Linked DNA regions of Homo sapiens. The protein of the gene in region 1 interacts with the protein of each later gene in a pairwise test. Each region holds a gene or a part of one and is shown on either strand. Other genes may lie near its edges.

Evidence for each region.
Region 2: the proteins of NOD1 (region 1) and PAK1 interact in binary tests that used the Homo sapiens proteins (3 or more experiments, as listed by UniProt).

The regions. Positions count from the first base shown.
Region 1 is NC_000007.14:30,468,557-30,472,374, reverse strand, and holds part of NOD1 (nucleotide-binding oligomerization domain-containing protein 1), read left to right. Parts: intron 1-3,818. UniProt on the Homo sapiens protein: Pattern recognition receptor (PRR) that detects bacterial peptidoglycan fragments and other danger signals and thus participates in both innate and adaptive immune responses.
Region 2 is NC_000011.10:77,334,593-77,338,410, reverse strand, and holds part of PAK1 (serine/threonine-protein kinase PAK 1), read left to right. Parts: intron 1-987; coding exon 988-1,087; intron 1,088-2,128; coding exon 2,129-2,325; intron 2,326-3,818. UniProt on the Homo sapiens protein: Protein kinase involved in intracellular signaling pathways downstream of integrins and receptor-type kinases that plays an important role in cytoskeleton dynamics, in cell adhesion, migration, proliferation, apoptosis, mitosis, and in vesicle-mediated transport processes.

The DNA.
Region 1 (3,818 bases):
TGAAAAAAAGAGTGAAATCATGCTGGATGCAGAGAACAGTGGGTTCAAAGACCCAGAGGTGAATGGGAAGGATGTGGGTGTGTTGAGTGGCTGGTGTGGTAAGGCCCAAGCCCAGGAGGGTACAGAGCTAAATAATGAGACACACTCAGGCCAAGTAGGGCCTCCTGGGCTGGGTAAGGATTTGGGATTTTATTCTGAAGTGCGGAGGGAAGCTTTGGAGGAATTTCCCCTCCTGACTTTTTCCTGTCATTCATAATATACAAGAAAAAGATCATTAGTCACTTCTATTTATTCAGATAATGAACAATCTCTACTTCTTAAGCTATATAAACCTTGTCTTAGTGTGTGAAACAATTCTGGAGTGTCTAGTTTTCAATCTCCAGATGAGGGAACTGAGGCTCAAAACAAAGTGAAAGAAGGCAGAGGCAGGATTTGGAACCAGGCCTGCCCAGCCCACGGCACATGCTCTGTAGTTTTCTGGGACAGATGAGTGTAAATGCATATGGGCCTCCTAGGCACCCGGCATCCTTCATCAGGAGCTTCAGTGGATGGACTAGGGTGGAGTCCAGTCCTTCCTGGCTCTTTAGAAACAGGAACAAAAGACCCCGAAGAGTGGAGGGAGGTTGGGCATGTACAGGTCAGGGGGTCAGAATCTGTAGGCACCAAATGTCAGGGCCCCCTGGCTATGGGAAGGGCTGTCAGTTTTTCACGCTAGTCTGTTCTGCTCCGCCTAGCTGTTGCCCAGAAATCCCAAAGAGGGTGCCTTCCCAGCTCTGTTCACCTTTGAAAATCTGAATTCATCATTTGTGTGCACTTGAGAGACCCAGGGTTTGGTAAAAACAAAATTCTTTATTGGGTGTTTTCAGGTCACAGGAAAAGCCTCCACTGTGTGGGACCCACATCCTTAGCACTGCATGCTGGCTGCTTCCAGGCATCTGCACTGACCCTGTTTCTCCTTCCTTGCTGTGAAGCGGTCATGAGGTTGCAGTGCCAGATGTGTTGCAGGCCAGGTGTATCTCGGCTGGTTGGGCAGGCCTTCTGCTTAACATGGGACCTCACTTAGTGAGGGAAGAGAGCAGTCCTGGCCCAAGGGGTGCAGTGTCTGGGGCAGATGCTTTAGGGGTTATGGCTCTATCATCTTCTCAACCTCTTAATGCCACTCAGGGTCACCACACATAAATCCCTGGGTACTCTCCCACTTAGCTCTGTGACAGGTTTGTGTCCTAGATGCTTGCTGACTCTGTATACATGTTCAATGGGGTTAATAAACGTCTTCAGCTAAGCATTTTGGCCAGCGATCAGCAGAGTGTTTATTTGCTGTGGGCCCGGTTTCAACTCCCACTTTGGTGGTGACTAATATATTTTGTTCTTGTGGAGTGCTTTTCACTTGATAAGCCCCAGACACTTTCTGTGTCAGTCCTAAATGCCATATCCAGATGTCCTCCAGCTTCCAGATCGGCCACTTCTGTGGCACTTTCCTCTGCATAAACACTTCAGCCCTCTCGCAGAGTGGAGTTCCAGGAAACCGGTTTCCACTTCAAGGCTCTGTTGTTTTCTGCTGGCTTTCTTCATTAAGATATTTTTATTCACTGGCCCCTCAGAGATGAATATCAAGTGCAGTGTTTTGGGAACTTTGTTTTTCAAAGCCTGGATAAAACCAAGAAAATGTCAAGCAGTAGGTGATTAAGTACCAAGTGGTCGCACAGGCAATGCTTTTGACATTGACAGCTGGGCTCTGGTTAACCTTTTAAAGACAGCAGCGAAGATAAATGCCTTAGAGCAACAGAAACTATTGGTGATGGAAAGTTGAATTTATTCACCAATAAACTTGGTAAGTGACATTCCCTAAGTGAGCCTGTGAATTATGGAAATCCACGTATCAGTGGACATGATGAAGCACCTGCTATACGCAGTGCACCCGGCCAGATTCATTCATTCGACGGTTCCTATCGAGCACCCTCTATGTGCTGGAGATACGGTGACTCACCAGATGGTCGCCCTCCCTTGTCATCAGTGCTGGCCTTGAAGATGACAGATGGAAATGCTGGCCTAGGCTGCCCTCTTGTAGGTCACGGCCGGTGCTTACTATGTGACCAGTGCTGTTCTAAATACCGTATGTACGTGTATTAACTCACTGCATGCTCACAGAGATCCCTACATGGAGTAGGTGCAGTTATTATCTGTACTTACAGAGAAGAAAACAGAAGCACAGAAGAGAGCATTATTTGTCCAAGTCACATAGCTGGTGATTGGAACCAGATAGCCTGGCTTTAGAGTCTGTGTCCTTCACTGCCACTACCAACCAATGTGAAAGGAAAATAATCAACTTAGGACACAAAGTTGCACGCCCTCTGAGAGAGGCGGGGATAGAATACCATGGGCCTTCCCAGCAGGGAGAGATGGGCTTAGGGGAGAAACAGAGTAAGGTGGGAACCCTACCCTTTTCCCATTCTGACAGGTGACATCCCCGCTGGGGGGATGGAGGAAATGTTTGGCTACTGAGGAGGCTACTCTGGCCAGAAGTAGACAAAAGAAGCAACTGTCTCGCAGCCAGGAGACTTGGATGCTAGTTTTGATTGATCCGGACAAGTCCAGGGCCCTGCCCAGGGCCTCTGTTTTCCCATCTCTAAAATAGGTGGCTTGGACAACATTCTGTTTGACCTCAGGAGCCCAGGATTTCAGCAGAGAAGGGAGGAGCTGGCTCTCTGTGCACTCTGAACAGGGTTTCCTGACCAGAAGAAGATGTTTGGCTCTGAGAGATGTGGGGGCAGGCATTGGACTTCCCAGAAGGCCTTGGCAGCTGTGAAAGGATGTATGCGTTCCACTGTGGTCCCACCCCGAATGCTGACGTTGGCTGTGTCTGCATTCCTTTCTTTGTAGGCAGGATGGCAGTGTCTGTGTGTCTGGAGCTCACACTATAAGGTACTTTGTATGAGAGACAGAGGGAGCTAGAGGGAGGGAAGAGGGAGTAGGGAGGGGAAGGAAGCCGGGAGAGAGAGAGGTGATTCCGGGAGGGACTGACTTCCATCTGCTTTCAAATTCTGAGGGATTAAGTGCTTTCAGATACTTAAAGTCAGTGAGTGTCAATGGAGTTAAAAAGCTTCCAATAATAATTGTAGCTTCATCCATCTGCTAAATTGTCTCCAGAGTCGGCTGCCTATAGTGTTCTGGCATGGCAGAGGCCCACATGACCGGGCTTGTTTTCCAGGTTAAGTTCCTTAAGAAATTGTAAACCAAGCAAGAAAAACAAACAGACAACAACAGAACACAGATTGTTGTGGATCATGCAGCAGGAAAAGTAGGACACCATTTGAGCTGACCAAGCATATGTGTTCTCCGTGCAGCTCTGTCGAAGCTGTGTAAGGTGTGCTTGGTGCTGGCTCCTGCCAGATGCTGTTGGCATGGCTTCATCCACCCAGCTTGCTGTTGGGTAACTTGCAGAGTGAAGAAGTCTGTTGTTCACGTCATCACCACAACCCTGAACATCCAAGCAGTTCATGTCAACAACTAGAGTATAATTATCTTCTTTACTTGTAAAACTGTGGAGCCTGTGGATTAAATTCACCAAAATGAATCATATTCAAGAGAAGTCATTTCCTAAAGGAGAATTCAGATGTGGTCCCCATTCATGGGTATATGTGTGCCAGTTATGTTGGGGGTTGGTGGAGCCCACTCTAATTGACATTTGCAATCTGGGTTATATCACCTCTGAGGTAGGCAGGTACCTACATGAGGTAGGCAGGGAATGATGGCTTTAACTTAGTTCATTCAATAAATGAATATCAGTTATCTATTCCTATTGTCCAGGATGGTGGTGG
Region 2 (3,818 bases), on another chromosome or scaffold:
TCTTACATTTTCAGGGAAAATCCAATTCTGGATATTGTTTTATTCTTACTTTAGCCATTGGTATATTCTTAGAAAGTAAAGTATTAGGTTAGGACCATTTAAATAGTATTTTCCTGTTCACTTATATCTTTAGTGTTTTTTAATTGGTAGAAGTTTCTAAAAAATTAGTTTTGGGTCAATGAAATCAAATTATTGATTTAGTAGAAAAGCTGAGATGATCTCATCTGATTCCCAAATTTTATAGATGGAAGTCCAGAATTATATAGTCAATGGGGTAGCAGCAGAACCAGGCATTTTAATTGTACCATTGTGTCTCTTTATTACTCATTCTGCCTGCTAAGTATAGGTGTTTTCCAAGATTCTTCTCTTTCTCCTTTACCCTTTGCCGGGTTCAACCATTTTTATAACTTAAACAAAAATCATCTCTTCCCAAATGACTTGTAAATATTTACCATAATTTATCATAAATTAAGTTGCCTACCAGACATTTGTCTTCAGATATCAAATTCAGCATATCCAAAATAGTACAAAATATCTCCTCACCAAAATAAGATTATCCTGCTAACTTACTGCTTCTAGTATCACTTCCATATGTCTGCTTCCTCAAATATGACCCTTATTTGTTGTTTTCCTCTGGTCTGTCATTATAAGATCCTTTCCATTTTTCTTCAGTAATTTCTCTTGGGCCTTAGGTCCTTTACCAAGGATCTAATTAGAAAAAAAATTACATTGGAGGAACTCCTTTACTTAAAAAAACTGTTTTAAGGTGAAAGGCAGCATGGAGTGTTAAAAGAATGTTTAGCTAGGAGATGGAAGACTTGTTTCTAGATCTGGCTCTGCGATTGATTTGGGGCAAGTCCTTTTACTCACTGGGGCCTTACTTCCTTTATTTTAAAGTGAAGAGGTTGAATTAGTGGATTTTCTATTAAGTCTTCTGTATTATATGTATGTCCTTTCTTTCTCCCCCTGCCCACACCACTTCAATAGTGTCTGCAGGCTCTGGAGTTCTTGCATTCGAACCAGGTCATTCACAGAGACATCAAGAGTGACAATATTCTGTTGGGAATGGATGGCTCTGTCAAGCTAAGTAAGTAGGAGCCTTAGGAATGATAATACTTCTCTGCCTGTGGGGCCCTGTCTCCTGTGAGATGGTCATCATATAATAGTAACTACGACACTCACCAAAGGGTCTTTATGATTTCATGGGATATGAGGGCTGTTTTATATTTTCTGTATTAATCATAGGATATCATTTCATTATTTTTTCATTCATTTATACATTTAACAACAACCACAAAAAACTTTGCTGAATGGTTACTCTGTGCTAGGTCCTGTGATGGGCACTGAGAGTAAATTTTCCCTACCTTCTCAATCTAGTATGGAAAACGTGTAATAGATAATTAGAAAAAAGAGTTTTGTATAATTTCTTTCATTCAGTTATTCAGCAAACTTTTATTGAATGTCCAGTACATGCTGGTCCTTCTAGGGATATGAGGACAAGTAAGAGGACATAATCCATACTCTCAAAGGCTTCCTAATTTAAATAAATTTATAATTGCAATATAATGTAAAAACCATGGCAGGTAGAGCATTTTGTTCAAAGGTGTAAAGACCAGTAGACCAGACAAACAGGCTGTGTCATGGGTGGATGGGCAGTTTATGGAAGGACTGCTAGCAGCCCTGGGTCTGGGGCATAAAAACAGGGCCATGCCTAGTCATAGGTGATTGGGGTTTAAATCAAGGACTCGTGCCCAAGGAATAAGACAAGGACCTAGTCGCCAGATTTGGGATTATGGGAATGGTTTTTCAAGAACAAAGCAGAATTGGGATGAGCAATCAAGACCAAAATGGGCAGCTTGGACTTTAACACTAAGTCCCCTGGTTTGAGGAGAAGTAGGAGGCCAGAGATGGTGTTTCTTATATTCCTTCTATTTCTCTTCAGGGTTCAATAGGAAATAGGCTAGGAGCTAGACATGAAGGTGGTAGTCAAGTGACTTTGGAGAGACAAAGGATAGCAGAGCTGGAAGCCAGGCGGATCTTGTCACCTATGTGTAGGTACACAGTCAACACTTACTGAAGTGAGTGTATATCCTAAATGTATGTTCTTTCTCTTATTTTTCTTTTCTAGCTGACTTTGGATTCTGTGCACAGATAACCCCAGAGCAGAGCAAACGGAGCACCATGGTAGGAACCCCATACTGGATGGCACCAGAGGTTGTGACACGAAAGGCCTATGGGCCCAAGGTTGACATCTGGTCCCTGGGCATCATGGCCATCGAAATGATTGAAGGGGAGCCTCCATACCTCAATGAAAACCCTCTGAGAGTGAGTGTTACCAGTTCTATTTCAAGTTATTTGGGCTGTTGTCTCTAGTCCCAGGAAATAAGAATCCAGGGTGTTCTCTGTGGTTTTCAACCTGGAGATCCCTTTTCTGGATACAACTAGTCACTGTTGAACTTAAAGTATAAATGGCCAAAGAAAAGGAATATTAGAAGTCACTCATTCATTTATTCAACAATTATTTGAGTCCCTGTCAAGTGCAAGAAACTATTCTAATGAAAATAAAATAAATTAATATGTAGTAACAGATGGTAAATGCTGTGAGAAAAAGCAAAGTAAGGGAGTTAACAGAGTAATGGAGGAACAGGTGTGCTATTTTAGAGTAGAGAGGGAAGTTCTCTCTTATAAGTTATTTTATTCTGCAGAGTTGGGAAGTCATTAGAGGGTTTTGAGCTGAGGAGTAATGTGATCTGATTTATGTTTTAAACAGATCATTTTGGCCGCTTTTATGGAAAATAGACTGCGAGAGACTGTTGTAATAGTTCAGAGTGGTGGTGTCTTGGTAGGAGTGGAAGTGAGAAGTGGTCAGATTCAGGAAATTAAAGGACTAGCTGACAAGATGAACTGAATATTAGAGAAAGAGGAATCAGCAATGACTACAAGATTTCTGGTCTGAATTGCTGAAAAAATTCAGTTGCCATCTGTTGAAATGGTGAAGAGCATACTTAAGTTGGGTAATAAAGAGTTGGTTTTGAATGTGCTGATTTGAAGTGTTAATTGGACATTTAAGTGGAGCTGGAGTAGAGTTTGGCTTAAGAGTCTGGAGTTCAAGGGTGAGAAGTCAGGACTATAAACATAAATTTATTAGTAGATAATATATAGTTGGTATATATAGTAGGTAGATGAGATCACTCACCTAGGGAATGAGTACAGTTAAAGAAAAGAGATTTGAGTACTGAGCTCTAGGTTATTCCACTGTTTACAGGTTGGAAGAACTAGCAAAGTAGACCAAGGAGTGGCCTTTCTAGTGTGAGAGAACAGAGAAGTGTCTTGGAGGTGAAGTGTCCTGGAGATGAAGAGAACAGTGTGCTTCCCGAAGGAGGAGGAGGGTAGATTATGTGTCAAATGTGATTGATAGGTTAAGATGAGACTGAGAAATGAACATTGGATTTGCCAATGTAGAGGTTCTTAATGACCTTAATAATCAGTTATCAGTAGAGAGATGGGGATGAAAGTCTAATTAAATTCATGAAAGTGGAAGAAGAGGACATTGAGATGGCATGTATAAACAGGTTTTTTTTTCTCTTAAAGGAATTTTGCTGGGAAGGGTAACAAAAATGGAGCACTATCTTAAAATGGAGTCAAGGGAGGGTTTTTCTAAAAGATGATGTCTGTGTGCTAATGGGAATGATTTAGTGGAGAGGAGGAAAATGGTCATGTACAAGAAGGAAGTGACAACCATAGAAGTGATATCCTTAAGTCGATGAGAGGGGTTCGATCAAGTACTGAAGTAAAGGACATTAGATTAGCATGGACAA